Linked DNA regions of Homo sapiens: region 1 is linked to region 2. A link means that fine-mapping ties the variant in region 2 to the expression of a gene that starts in the linked region. Tissue or cell type: esophagus mucosa. Region 2 holds a variant in brackets; the other region holds the start of a gene. All regions are shown on one strand. Distances are from middle to middle.

What was found. PIP is the estimated chance that this variant, and not a neighbour inherited with it, causes the effect.
Region 1: PTPN18 starts here. The variant in region 2 is fine-mapped to the expression of PTPN18 in esophagus mucosa (GTEx, PIP 0.98).

What each region holds. Positions count from the first base shown.
Region 1 is chr2:130,352,520-130,360,623 of GRCh38, reverse strand. It overlaps PTPN18 (protein tyrosine phosphatase non-receptor type 18), which reads right to left and starts at 4,568. Exons shown (of 15, transcript NM_014369.4): 1 at 4,424-4,568; 2 at 1,649-1,757; 3 at 1,315-1,391; 4 at 1,132-1,227; 5 at 978-1,016. The coding sequence starts at 4,516. RefSeq lists silencers at 4,129-4,178, 4,319-4,988.
Region 2 is chr2:129,825,313-129,833,416 of GRCh38, reverse strand. No RefSeq gene overlaps it. Among named protein-coding and RNA genes, the nearest start is that of LINC02572, 48 kb to the left of the region's middle. The variant A/CA (reference allele first, on the strand shown) is at 4,525.

The sequences.
Region 1 (8,104 bases), 530 kb before region 2:
CACAATATGTAAATAAATGAGTGTGGCTGTGTTCTAATACACTGTTTACAAAAAACAGGCAGGAGCATGAAAAAAGAGATAGCGAAATAGAGAGATGAGACAGAGAGAGAGAGAGAACACAAATTACCAAAATCAGGAATGAGAAAGAGACAAGACTACAGATCATACAGCCTCCACCATCAGCTAGTCACCCCAGGGAACCCCTACCCCATCCATGGAGTAGGCAAGAATGTAGAAACCACATGAAGCTATGTGCCTTCAGCCTTCAATATTGACATGCATTTATTTATTTAGTAACTAATTTATGTTAACAGGCAAAACAAAAATCCCTGGCCTTGTGGATCTTACCTTCTAAATCAGGGAGATTAAGCATAAACAATGTACATAATACATTTGTAGATTATCCAGTGTGTTAGGAGTTCATAAGAACTGTGAAGAAAGAAGGAAAAGTAGGACAAGGGAGGGAGAATGGAAGTGCTGAGAGTTTAAAATGGTGTGAAGACCCACCCCGGAAGGTCTCATTGAGGAATTACCATTTGAGCAAAGACCTGAAGGAGGTGATAGAGCAAGCCACAGGGAAGGATGTCCTAGGCTGAAGGAATAGCCAAGGCACAGACCCTGAGGCAGAGCCATCCCTGGAACATGGGAACAGCAGAGACCAGAGTTGTTAGAGTGGAGTGAATAAAGGGAAGAGAGGTGGAAAGAGAGATCAGAGCCTACAGGGGAAGCAGTCAGAATAGGGCCTTATGGTCTAAGGTGTGAAATGGCTGGGAAGCCCAGCAGGAGAGGGGTTGCCAACACTGGGGGATGAATAACATATCAACAAAAACTTAGAGGAACAATGGGGCTTCCCACAGAGCTACAATAAGGTCACTCCAAGAGCTGGACCCTCGGGTCCTGGGGTCAAGGAGGAGCTAGCAAGATCCCTCCTCCCTCCTCCCACAAGGACATGAAACCTGGGGGCAGAGGGCACCTACCCGCCCATTCTCTATCTCTCGACAGGCCATCAGGATCACCTAGACAAGGAGGGTCAGGGGAGAGGAAGGTGATTTGGGTGAGGGGGCCAGGGAAACTGCCGAGGGGGTACTTAGATGTTGACCCCACCATTGTGCCGCACCCCCAAGTGCTGACCTTGACCCCAAACTCCCAGACCAGTCTCCAGAAGTCTAGCAGGGTGTGAGGCAAGGGTCCTTGCGTGGCAATGTAGGCCAGGCTTCCATCCACGCCCTGGTGAAGGCCGAATTCACGACTGAGATTCTGCGGCCCACCCCTGGCCACTCCCAGTCCACCTCCTTCCGTGACCCCAACCCTCACCCGGATGAAGTTGCCATTAATGTAGTCGCTGTGTCCCTCTTCCTGGAGCAGGGAGAGGATTACTCGCGTCTGATCATCTGTCAGCAGATAAGGTGAGAAACGTGGAGTTTGGGTAGGATAGGGTGACGGAGCCTCTGACAGCCCCCTAGCTGAAAGCCAGCAGGGGACCACACACATGCAGAGATCCCACCAAGGTGCCCTTGTGGGCTGCTGAGCAGTGCAGAGGGTGAGGCTCTGGGAGGAGAGCACAGTGGGTGACTCCAGTGCACACTGACGCCTGGACGTGGCAGGGCGTGCAAGGCTGCACCGACTCCCTACGGAAGCCCCGACTTACAAGGCAGCACGTCTTTGTAGCGGTTCTTCCTCACGTTCTCTGGCCGACTGCCGGCCACGGTGGAGCACACGCCGTCAGCCTTCCAGGCGGCCGAGCAGGCCTGGATGTCCTGGTAGAGCATTATGAGTGGGTCAGGGAGGGGAGAAGACAGGAGAGGAGCCAGGTCAGAGTCCCAGGCCACCTAGGCACGCTTGCAGGATACAAAGCCAGTGGCCTGGGGAGGTGAGTGCAGACCCTGATGGCACTGGGCCTGCCTAATAATAATGATACCGAAATAGTGACCCAGGGCACCTTCTCTGTGCCACTCTCTGTGCTAAGGGCATGTAATCATCACAGGTTCCTACGACGTGGGTACTATTATTGACGTCCCCATTGTGCAGGCGGGAAAGTTTATGCACCACGTGGTTCAGCGACTTGTGGAAGGTCCCAACCAGGAAGTCACACGGTGAGGGTTGAACTCAGACCCTCTCGGCACCCACCCCCTGCACACTCAATCTGTGACATTGTCTTGTAAGCAATAACTGTAATGAAATATATTATGGGCTATGTAGCTAAACATATAAGACAATGTACAATGAATGCATAGGCATTATAATGGATAACATATTATGTACAAGATACTATAGGCACTGTGTTACTGGGAGATTATAATAATAATTAGTGAATCGTGTATTACCATCATCGTCAGGTATTCGTAATCTCAATGATAATAAGTAACACCCATGCCACCACTGTGTGCCAGCCACTATTCTAAGTGCTTTACTTGTGTCCATTGGGTCATTTAAGCCCTCATGATGCCCTTGTGTAGTGGGAACACCTAGAAGAGCGCAGTGATTCCTGCACATGCGGGAGGCAGGCTTGGGGAGCAGGGGTGCCCTCGCCACCCAGCCTTCCGCATGTGAGGCCCTCCGCACTGTACACGGTTCAGAACCCACCCAGTCGCATGATGTCATATATCACATGGGTATTATGTTTACATTTGTTACACACATTCTTATATTGTATAATTATATATTTTACATTTATTATGCATTTCTTAGTTTCTTATATACAATGTTTCTACATGTGTGTAAATTACTTAGGTTTATAATTATCTGTTACTTTTTTTTTTTTTTTTTTTGAGATGGAGTCTCGCTCTGTTGCCCAGGCTGGACTGCAGTGGCGCGATCTCGGCTCACTGCAAGCTCCGCCTCCCGGGTTCACGCCATTCTCCTGCCTCAGCCACCCGAGTAGCTGGGACTACAGGCGCCCGCCACCACGCCCAGCTAATTTTTTGTGTGTTTAGTAGAGACGGGGTTTCACCGTGTTAGCCAGGATGGTGTGGATCTCCTGACCTCGTGATCCGCCCGCCTCGGCCTCCCAAAGTGCTGGGATTATAGGCGTGAGCCACCGTGCCCGGCCATCTGTTACATATTTTATATCTACTTATGAATTTATCAAATAACTTTGGTCATTTTATAAATTATAATCTTTGTTATATTCATTTGTTGTATTGTTTTATGCAGTTATGCAATGTTTATTGTATAAACGGTCATTTATAATACTTTTATATATTTGTCATATTTCTAAACTTGATACATGTCACCATATATCAGTTTATGCGTTTGTATGGTATGTTTCTATGTCTGGTACATAAGCGATTACACTTTAAACACGTCATCAACTGTAATGTACAGTGCCTAGCATTCTGCGTGAGCCTTCCTAATGCTGGGCTTGCACTACCTGTATTGTAACGTTTAGATTTTTTGTTTGGTTTTGTTTTGTTTGAGATGGGATCTCACTCTGTGGCCCAGGCTGGAGTGCAGTGGCACCATCTCAGCTGTGCAGTGGAACCATCTCAGCTCACTGCAACCTCTGCCTCCCAGGTTCAAGCGAGTCCCCTGTCTCTGCTCCCTAGTAGCTGGGATTACAGGCATGCGCCCATGCCCAGTTGATTTTTGTATTTTTAGTAGAGACGGGGTTTCGCTGTGTTGCCCAGGCTGGTCTCGAACTCCTGAGCTCAAGCGATCCTCCCACCTCGGCCTCCCAAAGTGCTGGGATTACAGGTGTGAGCCACCGCACCTGGCCCACGTTTAGAATCTTTATAGGCAGTGACGAACGCCCCTACGAAGTGTGCGCCCAATATGTACTAAGTGCTTTTCACCCACATCATTTAATCCTTAGACCAGTTTGGTCATTCATGTCCCCATTTCACCAAGGGAGAAGCCGAGGTCAGAGGGGCCAGGTAGACCGCCTGGACCACACGCGGATGGCCGGGACGCGGATTCGGGACGGGAAGCGGATTCGGGCCCGGACGCGGATTCGAGCCCGGCGTTCACACCCTCACCACGCCACAGCCTCCGTGTTCCTCTTCGCCCTGCTGCAGCCCCTTCCTTCCTGTGGTCACAGGGGACAGTCAGGTCGCCAGAAGCGGCGGGGCCGGGGCTGTCCAGCGCAGCAGGGCCGCCCGCCCTCCCCTGCGGCGCCCGCCCCACCTGTCCCGCCCGCAGCCAGGTTGTTCCGGGAGCGCGACGAGGACACCGGGAACGAGGGTGTGCACGGTCCGTCCCGGCCTGGCCGTGGACGTCGCGCTCCGGGGCCGGGGGGCAGAGAGTGAAGACGGAGACAGCAAGAGCGACAGAGAAGTGCTGGGGAGAGAAACACGGAGAGACCCCCCGAGGCGGGGAGACACCGGGGACACCGAGACAGAAAGGCAGAGCCCGCCGTGCGCGGAGGACAGGCGTACGCAGGGCCAGGGCCGGGGCGCGCCGCTCGCGGACCCCGTGTGCCACTCACGCTGAACTCGCCGGCGAGGACTGCCCCCTCCCGGCCGCCCCGCGCTTCCAGCCGCTCCAGGAAGCTCCGCGCCGAGTCCAGGCTGCGGCTCATGGCGCCGCGGGCCAGCAAGGTCCAGCCCGGCCGCCGCGCGCGCGGCGAGTGTGGACGCCGCGGGAGGCGGAGGCCGGTGACTGAGTCCCCGCCCTTGCCTCGGCAGCCAATGGAAGCGCGCAGCGGCGGGCAGGGCGCCCCAGCCACCGTGTTCTGAGCCCGCGTAGCCCCACCCCGGGCGCTCGGGCCGCTGTGGCCGGAGCCCTAGGTCCTCGCGGGCTGCCCTGAGCAGAGTCCAGCGCCGGCGCTTCCCCTTTTTTTCGGCTGCCGCGCCCACTGGTGGGGGGGTGGCACGGTCCCAGGTTCGCTCCCTGCCGCTTGGGACCCGCCCTCAGATCGGGATCCGCGCCCAGGGGCCGACCTCCGGGTGCCGGCTCTGGGTGGACGGCCGAGCGGTCTCGCCGGGCCCTCCCGCCCGTCCCCTGGGAGCCAGGCCGCGCGGAGTCCGAGCTGGGGCGGGCAGCAGCCTTGGGTGGAGACGGTCGCCGAGATCAGGCTGCCCCTCGTGCCAGAGGACCCCGGGTCGGGGGCGTCCCGCGCTGTGCGCTCCAGCCGGGCCCAAGGGAGGCCGGGGAGGGGCAGCCACGCCGTGGGAAAGGCCAAGTGGCAGCGGGATCTTCTCTGTGTATTTCCCGAGGAATTTGTGGTTCCTTTTTCCCGGATGCGCTGGGGCACCAGGGTCAGTCCTGTGTGAGCATCTCGACCTGCACAAGCCTGCTGGGAAACAGAACTGAGGCACTGGAAGTGGGTTCTGGGGAACGAAGAGCTTCTCTTTTTTGCCTGCCCTGACACTCCCATCTTCAGAAAGTGTGCAGAGGTCAGAGGAGAGCCGCCGTTCCAGCTTCCGGGATCACCGAGGGGAGGCTGGAGAGAATGGACTGGCACCTGGGTCTCTTCAAGGACAGGCCTAGGTTAGCCCCCTTCTCGCCGAGGTCGGAAGAATTAAGAGGGGTGTCACTGGAAGGGGCGTCAGTGGACACCAGTTTGAGGTCGTTGAGGGGTTGAAAGGTAGCATTGGGGCCTGGATGTGTGCCTGAGTCTCTGAAGGGTCAACAGGGGCATGATGTCAGGTGGTCAATTTAATTCACTAGGGGCTATCAGAGTATTTAAGGGCACACTTTCTTAAAGGTCCCGGTAGGAAGTGGTTTTGGCTTTGCTATCGCTGCCCCAGCTGCTTAACTCAGCTGTGGCAGCATGAAAGCAGACAATATAGTGTGGCTGTGTCCCAAAGAAACCATTTATGGACAAAGAAATCAGAATTTCATGTAATGTTCATGTGTCATGAATTATTCTAGTGTGTGTGTGTGGCCTACAGGCTGTCGTTTGCTGACCTTGGCTGAAGTGATGGAGCGATCAAAGTGGCTCTGTGGGGATCAGCAGCTAGGGCTGTTTGATTTATCGTGGGGTCCGCAGGGGTCACTGTGAGATTCATGTTCATCATTTATCAGTTTCATCTTTGAGCATTCTCAGGGAGGTAATTGTTTAGGATGGTGGTGATAGGGAATTCATTGGAAGCCAGTCGGGGTCCCTTGGATGTTCATGGGGGGGGGGGTGTCAGTAGATATTAATGACAGTCATTGGGAGGCCAGTGGATACTTGGGACAAGAAGTGAAAGTAATTGTGGGGCCATTGGGATTTGGAGTGTTAGTAATTGAAGGGTCCGAAGAGTCTGGGAAGTCATTGAGAGCTCTGCTCAGTGCATGATAGTGACTCTCAGTATAATCATTGAGGGTTTGTGGATGGCCATGGAGATCCAGGGAGGTAGAATACAGAAGCATCAGTAAGCTTTCAGAAAATAAAGACATTTTCTGGGAAAATGTGAGCCCCTGAGCACACATGGTTATTCAGGGCAGTCTTTATGGGCTAGAGGATCTCTGTCCAGCAGCAGGGATCCTGTTGAGGGCCTGTCCTCATAGGCTGAGGTCTGTCTGACTGGTGGAGGGCATGTCGTCCAGCTGAAGGTCTGGTTGACTAGGTGGGTGGGGTGTTCTCTCCTCTGGGGTAATGTCTCTGTCCATTTTGGGGAGGGCACCTGTCCTTGAGGGATTCTGACCTTTGCCTGGCTGGGGGGCCCAGGTGTCTCTCTGGCCACAGGCCTATTTGGATGTCTGGCTGAGGGTCTACCCATCTGTCAGTAATCTGTCTGTTTGTCCAGCTGGGTGTTTCCCTGGGATTCTGTCCATCTGGAAGTCTGTCCAGCCAGGGTGTGTGTGTGTGTGTGTGTGTGTGTGTGTGTTTGGTGGTTTGTCTATTAGAGGATCTGAGTGACTAGCCAGATGCTGCCTTGTGGCCTGTGAACATTAAGTGGCTGAGGCTGTAGTCTGCCATTTGTACTTCCAGCTGCCTTGAGTGTCTTTCTGTCCTCGTGTTCACCCTCACTCCAAGCCCCACCTTGTTGTTTAACCCACCTGTCCTCCTGACACCTGACCGTTCCTCATGTCTCTCCAAACATCCAAACTCTTAGCTTGCCCTCTGTTCAGCTCAGGCTAGGTGTGGGGGATGGGAAGACCCCACATCTTCCAGAGGCCCTGGCCCACCCCGGCTTTTCTCTCCCGGAGGACTGCCAGCTGTGTTCTTGCAATGAGACTCACTGCTGCTGGTGGCCCTCCTGTTCACGCTGCCAGCAGCAGTCTTGCACAGTGGGAGCTGCTGGCACTGCTACAGAGACCCCAAGTGTACCAAAGCCCACGTGCCATGTGCCAGTCTGTCACCTGCCCACCAGTCAGTGTGGCTACATGGGCCGCTCAACAGAGCCAAGAGGACAAGGTAGAGGAAGATGCACAGGGACAGGTGCACAAGGCTGTGAGTTCAGCCTGCTCTGAGCCTGCAAAGGGGAAAAGAGAAACTACAGTGGAGACCCCTGGCAGACACCCCTTCCTCTGGGATGCTTGCGGGGAGCTCCTTGGAGACTGCTGGCATCTCCAGGGTACAGTTCTTCTCCAGCTTCCTTTTTTGCTTAGTTAAAAAAGGGCAGAGACCATCCTGGCTAACACAGTGAAACCCCGTTCTCTATTAAAAGTACAAAAAATTAGCCGGGCGTGGTGGCGGGCACCTGTAGTCCCAGCTGCTCGGGAGGCTGAGGCAGGAGAATGGCTTGAACCCGGGAGGCGGAGCTTGCAGTGAGCCGAGATTGTGCCACTGCACTCCAGCCTGGGCGACAGAGCAAGACTCCGCCTCAAAAAAAAAAAATCAATAAATAAAAATAAAAAAAGGGCAGAAGACTGGAACCAAAATGTTTGAGTTAGAATTCTGGCACCATGACTTTCTCAGTATGACCTTGGGCAAGTCATTTAATTTCTATGTCTCAATTTCCTCCTCTGTAGGACTGTGTCTCTTCTTGTTGCTTTATTGTGAGAATTTAAGGAAATCATTGTATATAAAGCATTTAGATAGAACAGCACTTGGCTTGCAGTATACACTTGGTACTATTAATATTATTATTACACTGCTAGTTTCCCTTTCTGATATTGCCACGCCCACCTCCTTACTCCCTCCTCTAAGTTAAAACAAAAGTGGAAGGGGGGGCATAAATTTGAAAACATTTTCCCATTGCTTCATTCTGTTAAAAACCTTCAAGCTGGGCAAGTT
Region 2 (8,104 bases):
CTCGGCACTTTGGGAGGCCAAGGCAGGCAGCTGGGAGGTGGAGGTTGTGGCCAGCCGAGATCACGCCACTGCACTCCAGCCTGGGCAAGATTGAGCACTGAGTGAGCGAGACTCCGTCTGCAATCCCGGCACCTCGGGAGGCCCAGGCGGGCAGATCACTCGTGGTCAGGAGCTGGAGACCAGCCCGGCCAACACGGCGAAACCCCATCTCCACCAAAAAATACACAAACCAGTCAAGCCTGGCGGCACGCGCCTGCAATCCCAGGCACTCGGCAGGCTGAGGCAGGAGAATCAGGCAGGGAGGTTGCAGTGAGCCGAGATCGCGGCAGTACAGTCCAGACTCGGCTCGACATCAGAGGGAGACTGTGGGGGGGGGGGGGAGGAGGGAGAGCCTTTTTTTTTGTATTTTTAGTAGAGACTGGGTTTCACCGTGTTAGCCAGGATGGTCTTAATCTCCTGACCTCATGATCCACCCGCCTTGGCCTCCCAAAGTGCTGGGATTACAGGCATTTGTTGTTAGTGTAGAGAAGTGCTATTGATTTTTGCAAGTTGGTATTGTATCCTGCAACTCCACTGAATTTGCTCATCAGTCCTGCTTTTTGTATACTTGTTTAATAGTCCAGAATATGTTTTTTATCTTAGTAAGTGTCCTGTGTACACTAAAAAACTGCATTCAGCTCTCATTGTGTGAAGTGCTCTATAAACATCTTTTAGGTCAGGTTGGTTGATAGTGTGTGAAAATCTCCCAAATACCTTACTGATTTTCTGTCTCTGTGTTCTATCAATTATTAAGAGTGGGGCATTAAAATCTCTGACTACAATGGTGGATTGTCTATCTCTCCTTGGAATTCTATCAGTTTTGGCACCACGTATTTTGAAATTTTGTTATTAGGTGTATTGGCATTTAGTTTTATTGTTTCAGGTCTTAAAATTAAGTCTTTATTTTGAGTTGATTCTTGTATAAGGAGTGAGATAAAACTCTATTTTCCCAATTTTCTTTCTTTTTTTTTTTTTTTGAGACGGAGCTTTGCTTTTGTTGCCCAGGCTGGAGTGGAATGGCACAATCTCTGCTCACTGCAACCTCCACCTCCCAGGTTCAAGCAATTCTTCTGCCTCAGCCTCCTGAGCAGCTGGGATTACAGGTATGTGCTATCACGCCAGGCTAATTTTGTATTTTTAGTAGAGGCAGGGTTTCTCCATGTTTACTGGGACTACTCTCAGCCCCTAGAAGTTGCCTGCCTTTTCCTTCCCTATTGCCCCCTCCACAACATGGGAGTTTCTCTTTCAAGGACAGCAGAAATGTCTCTGCTATTTAGAATCTCTGATTTTCTCTGTCTCTGAACCAGCTGTATTGTGCTCTTGTTATTAGATTAGGCCCACAGGAAAATCTTTCTTTTGACTGACTCAAAGTCAACTGATTAGACTTCTTAGCTACATTGGCAAAACCCAATTTGCCATATAATGACACATAATCATGGGGTGGTATTCCGTAATACTCACAGGTTCTGTTCACACTCATAGGGAGGGAATCATGCAAGGTGTGTACATCAGGGGATGTGAATCTTGAGGGCCATCTTTGAATTCTGCCTACCACATTTCAATAATTTTTTTTTTGAGACAGAGTCTCACTCTGTCACCCAGGTTGGAGTGCAGTAGCACAGTCTTGGCTCACTGCAACCTCTGCCTCTCTGGTTCAAGCAATTATCTTGCCTTAGCCTCCCGAGTAGCTGGAATTACAGATGTGCACTGCCATGTCTGGCTAATTTTTGTATTTTTAGTAGAGATGGGGTTTTGCCATGTTGGCCAGGCTAGTCTTGAACTCCTGACCTCAAGTGAGCCACCTGCCTTGGCCTCCCTAAGTGCTAGGATTACAGGCATGAGCCACTGTGCCTGGCCTGGACCCCAATGATTTATAGCCCTTCCAAACATTCCCTAGAATCTAATCCCATTCAGACATCATTCCAAGTTTAAAATCTCATCAGGTAAATCAGGCCCAGATTTGGATGAGGCTTCTGGGTTAATTTTTTGAGACACATTTCCTCTCTATCCAAGAGAGAGGTGATCTCCCCAACACTCCCAGTATATGACGGTGGGACAGACATAGAGTGACAGTTATAGATGTTCCAGTTTAAAAAGGAGGAAAATGGAAGGTGAAACAGAAAGGAGTCACTGCTCCAAAGCAGTTTTGAAATCTAGCTGGATGACTTCCAGCCAGAGACCCTTGATTAGGTTTCCATGCCTGGGAATTATCCTTCCTTGCTCCTCAGTTATCTTGCTCACCCTCTGGGCTCTTGTTGGTTCTGTTCTCTGAGCTCTGAGTCATTCTTCCTTTTCATTAAAGGTAGGAGCATTTGCAGCTGAAGTTTCATCAACCCGCTTCCTGCTGCTGGAATCCTAAGGGTCTGACTGTCTTTTTAATTTCAGAGTCTCTCTGTTCCTTTTAGTCCAAGCTGGCAGTATTTCTTCCCAATTTTAGTCAAGAACCTTGTGGGGTTTGCATGAATTACACTGGGATTCAGACCATTAAGCAAAAGCCATGCCCACAGATCTCCTTTTAGTGGTCACTATTTTATTGCAATTGTACATATTTATGGGGTACAGTCTGATGTTTTGATAAACATATATTGTATACTGATCAAATTAGGGTAGTTAACATATCCATCACCTCATGCATTTATCATTGCTCTGTGGTGAGAACATTCAAAATTCTCTCTTCTAGCTATTTTATAATACACAGTACTGTACTGTCAATCCTCATCACTCCACAGTGCAATAGAACTTACTCCTCCTACATAATTGTAACTTTGTGCCCATTGAATAAACTCTCCTCATCCTCCCTTCTACCCTGCTTATCCCGTCTCTGGTAACCAGTGTTCTACCTCTGCTTCTGTGATGTCAACTTTTTTTTTTTTTTAAGATTCCACATGAGTGAAATCATGTGGTATTTATTTGTGTTTCTGTGTTTGGCTTATTTCACTTAAGATGGTGTCCTCTGGGTTCATCCAGGTTGTTGCAAATGACAGGATTCCATCCTTTGCATGGCTGATTAGTACTCCATTGTGTATATATACGACATTTTCTTTATCCATTTGTCTGCTGACACTTGGGTTGATTCCATATCTTGGAAGACATGTCTAGGAAGTTGCAAATGCTGCTACCTTTAATGAAAAGACATGTTATGGCCAACAGGTCTAGGAAAAAATGCTCAACATTCATCAGGGAAATGCAAATCAAAACCATAATGAGATACCACCTCATTCCATTTAGAATGGCTGTTATCAGAAAGACATAAGAAAACAAGTCAAGGGGTGTAGAGAAATGGGAACCCTTGTACACTCTTGGTGGGAATGTAAATTGGTACAGCCACTGTGGAAAGCAGTATGGAGATTCCTCAAAAAATAAAAATAGAATTACCATATGATCCAGCAATTCCACTCTTGGCAATATAAACCAAAGGAAATGAAATCAGTGTGTCAAAGAAATATCAGCACTTGTAAGTTTACTGCAGCACAGATCTTTTTGAGATAATCTCTTTGCTATATTTGGCTCTTGCTGATGCAGCTGAGGACCAGATGCTACAGGGCTGTGGTCCTCTGGTTTGGTTGAGAAGACCTGTGAGGCACATATGCTATCTCTTGAAAGAGCCCTTTGTACGACTGAATTCTCTGACTCATTGATCCTTCTGAGGTTTTAGCAAAAGGTTGTACAGTCACGCCCTCACCTTCTTTTCTCTGCCATGCCTTTGAAAGCAATCTCCTAATTTTATTGTCCGTAGCTATATGGATGGGCTGACAATTCCCCAAATCATCCAGTCCTGGTTGCTTTTTGTTTAATAGTGCTTTTCTCAAGTTATCTCCCTCCTCTCACATTTTACTATAAGCAGCAACAATGAACTCAGCCACATCTTCAACACTTTGCTGGGAAATCTCCTTAGCAATTTATTCAAGTCAGTCATGTATACCTTCTGCTTTCTGCCTAACTGCAGGGCACAATTTGCTAAGTTTCTGCCAATAAACAGTAAAGATTCCCCTTCTTTCAGTTTCCAATGACATGTCCCTCCTCTTCTTCTGAGGTCTCACCACTAGGATCCTCCAAGTACAGATTTCTACTAATAGTCTGTCCACTGCACTTCAGGCTTTTTCTGCCACGCTCCTCAACATTCTTAGAAGAATGCCTCTGCCTGCTGTCAGCTTCCACTGGCACAGCCACATTTTTAGGTATTTGTTACAGTACACCCCACTTTTAGGTAACAAAATGTGTATTGGTGCATAACAAATGACCACAAACGTAGAGGCTGGAACAGTGTGTCCATCAGTGTGCTGCTCTGTAGGCGAGAGGGATGATGATGTAATGCGTCTGCGCTCTCTGCTCAGTCTCGCCAGGCTGAAATCAGGGTGCTGGCTGAGTTTGTGTCTGCAGGCTCTGGGGAAGAATATGCTCTGAAGCTCATTCAGGTTGCCCGGCAGTCCTGGTTGCAGGGCTGAGGTCCCTGCCTCTTCACTGCCTGCCAGCTGGAGGCCCCCC[A/CA]GCATCTGCAGGCTGCCCAGCTGGCTGGCTGATGGCTCTCTCCTCCTTCAACACCAACAATGGATAATTTCTCAGCCACGGAGTCTCTTTCTTTTCAAATCCCTTCTTCCGGGAAGAACCCTATTCCTTAATAAGGGATCACCGGATTAGGGGTTCTACCTAGGATAGCCTTTTTCTGAACTCAGCTGAATAGGGACATTGGTTACATCTGAAAAGTCTCTTCAGCGCAGCATGCAGATGAGTGCCTAACTAGGAGAAGGTGTGAACACACACAGGGACCAGAATCCCGGGGGCATCTGAGAGTTCCGCCTGCCACAGGGATTCTGAAAAGCCTCGGTTGATGGTGTATTTGTCCAGAGAAATTAGCCCTTGTTTCTGTGTTGGTTTCCAGGAATATAATATTTTGGGGACAGTTTAAGGTTAACTTCTTGGCTTAAATAGTATAAATTTCAAGTTCAAACCTGCATAAAAGCAGGGAAACGATTAGAAATTGTCAGGGAAATGTTTAGGCCAAGATAACAAAATTTCATGTTGTCATTTGATACGTGCAGGTAAATATTTTTCCAGTTATTGGTCTTTTGTTTTCTGAGGCAATGGCCCCTGGAGAGTCCTAACTTCACGCAGCAGTTCTCAGCTCCTCTCTATCCCATCCTCTCAATCTGCCCCATCCATTCCTGTTTGTAGAAACCCAATCTTCTGGGCTACCAGAGGGCCACCGTCCCCCACTTCTGCTGCTCCTGGCCCTAGGCGCAGGGCTTCATGTCACAGGCTGTCCATTCAATTTTCAGTGACTGCTTTTGTTTCTGAGGATTCCCTTACTTTTCATTTAAGTTCACGTTGCCTACAAATATGTTTTATTACATACTATCTGGTGCTGCTTTTTGATTGCAGTCGGAGGCAGATTCTTTCATCTGCCACACAGATGGGGGTGGGAGCTTTGTTCTCTCTGCCTGTGGTTTGAGGCCTCCTCATTTCTCCCTGCCTGGAGGCAGCAGACCCTCAGCGCTCTGTCCTCAGGGCCTGCCCTAATCCATGGCCTGCCCTAATCCACTTCCAGGCACCTGACAAAGTCACCTTTGGAAAATGTAAATCGGATCACAAAGCCTCTCGGCTTCAAGGTGCTGAGCCACGCCTGCTTCTGTGCGGGATCTGGCCTGGCCTCTGACCCAGCAGGGCCCTGCCTGCACCGCGCACCCTCTGCCTCTCCCGGCCTGAGCCCAACCCGGGGGCGCCCCAGCACGTTTGCCGGTGGTTTGCTCCTGGGAGTGCTCCTCTGCTGGCTGTGGGCGGGGAATCCTCCTTTGATTCTCAGGCCCCGTCCTGGGGAGTGTCCCTGACCGCCATGGAGCTCAGCCCTGTTCCTCATCCCCCTACTTCACTGCTGTGCTGGTGGCTCTCAGAGTGGGGGCCCCCTTCAGCCGGCCCCGCCCGCCCACGCTCCCGCACCTCCTGCCCCTCCCGCACCTCCCGCACTTACCATGACAGCACAGGCCAGGGTCCGGCCCAAGACACACTGCGCCCAGCACGCAGCAGTGGGGGCTGAGCCCAGGGCTTCTGGCTACACCAGTGGGGTTCAGGAGGCCAGAGCAAGCCCCACGCTCCGAGGCCCCAGCTCGTGCTTAAGGTGCAGGGCTTTTGTGACAGGCACAGCAGAAAAGTGGACAGAAACAAATCCAAGCCCACCGGATTAGAATACAGAGACATTTTCGAATTAAATCATTTCTACAGGCCTAATCTTTTTCTTTTTCTGCTCTAAATATTATTATATATTTTTAAATAATGTCAACTCTATTTTTTTTCTTCCACTTTTATTTTAGGTTCAGGGGTACCTGTGCAGGTTCCTTACATGGGTAAATTGCATGTCTCTGGGGTTTGGTGTACAGATGATTTCCTCATGCAGGTGGTGAACATAGTACCTCATAGGTAGTTTTTTGATCCTCTTGCTTCTCCCAGCCCCGACCCTCATGTAGGTCCCGGTGTCAGTTGTTCCTCTCCTGTGCTCATGTGTGCTCATGTTTAGCACTCACTTATAAGTGATAACATACAGTATTTGGTTTTCTGCTCCTGCATTAATCCATGTAGGATAATGGCTTCCAGTTGCATCCATGTTGCTGCAAAGGACATGATTTCATTTTTTTTTTTTTTTTTTTTTGAGATGGAGTCTCTTATTGATCAGGCTGGAGTGCAATGGTGTGATCTCGGCTCAATGCGACCTCGGCCTCCTGGGTTCAAGCTATTCTCCTGCCTTTGCCTCCCTAGTAGCTGGGATTATAGGCACCCACCACCACACCTGGCTAATTGTGGTATTTTTAGTAGAGACAGGGTTTTGCCATGTTGGCCAGACTGGTCTCGAACCCTTTCCTCAGGGGATCTGCCCGCCTCAGCTTCCCGAAGTGCTGGGATTACAGGTGTGAGCCACTGCACCCGACCAATTTCATTCTTTTTGTATTTTTAATTGGCACATGATAATTGTACATATTTATAGGGTACAGTGTGATATTTCAATACATCTGTACAATGTGTAATGATCAAATCAGGGTAGTTAGCATATCCATCACTAAAAACATGTATCACTTCTTTCTTTTGGGAACATTAGAAGTCCACTCTTCCAGCTACTTGAAAATACATGACAAATTGTTGTTAATTATAATCCCCTATGGCACTATAGGACATGAGAACTTCCTCCTCCTAGCTGGCAGTCCTGCTGTATTCGTTAAACAGCCTGTGGCCCTCCCTTACTGCAGGCCTCATCCTTCTAACATTGAGCCCAACTTTTGTCACAGTGTTGGGAGAAAAGCTTGGGATGACCGACTGCGGGGGCGAGTGGCGGTGGCCAGCTGAGGTCGGCCCTGAAGGTGCTCCTAACACAGCCTGCGAGCTGCCCACGGGGACGGACAGACGCGTGTGCCTGCCTCATGCTGGTGTTGGAGGTCATTTCCTCCTCATGTGTCCAAAGAATTACTTGAAGTAACACTGATGGATGGCAGCCCTGTGGCCTGGGTTCCTCCGATACCTGTGAGGCAGTATCTTTAACACCACCCCTACAGTCGGGGCCTTTCAGATGCCAGGCTGTCCTGGGTCTTTTACATGGGCCTTTTCATGGACCAGAGTGGGGCTTCCCAAACGGCAATCTGGAGCCCTTTCCACCAGCATGGCAGGCCCAGGAATGAAGGATGCTAGTGGACACGTTGCTCATGACCCTGACTGCAGCCTCCAGCACCCCTCTTGTTTCCTCCCCCCTCCAGCCACTTTTTTGAAACAAAATTTTCTTTTAATTTTTACGTACTTAAATCATACCATGTTTTTATGACTTTGACACTGTGCTAGAAAAACTCACCCTGCCACAGAGTAAGTCAAATATTCACCTATGTAATCTCTTCCCATGCTCATGTTTTCATTTTTTATACATAAACCTTAATTCCTTCTAGAATTCATTTGGGTACATGCTGTGATGTATGGCTTTGTCTTTATTCATTCCAGCGGTTAGCCAGTTTTCCCAATACCATCATTTACAGGACAATCTATGCTTCACCCACTGGTCTGAAGTGCCAGCTTTATCATAAACTAAGTATGTGTCTGT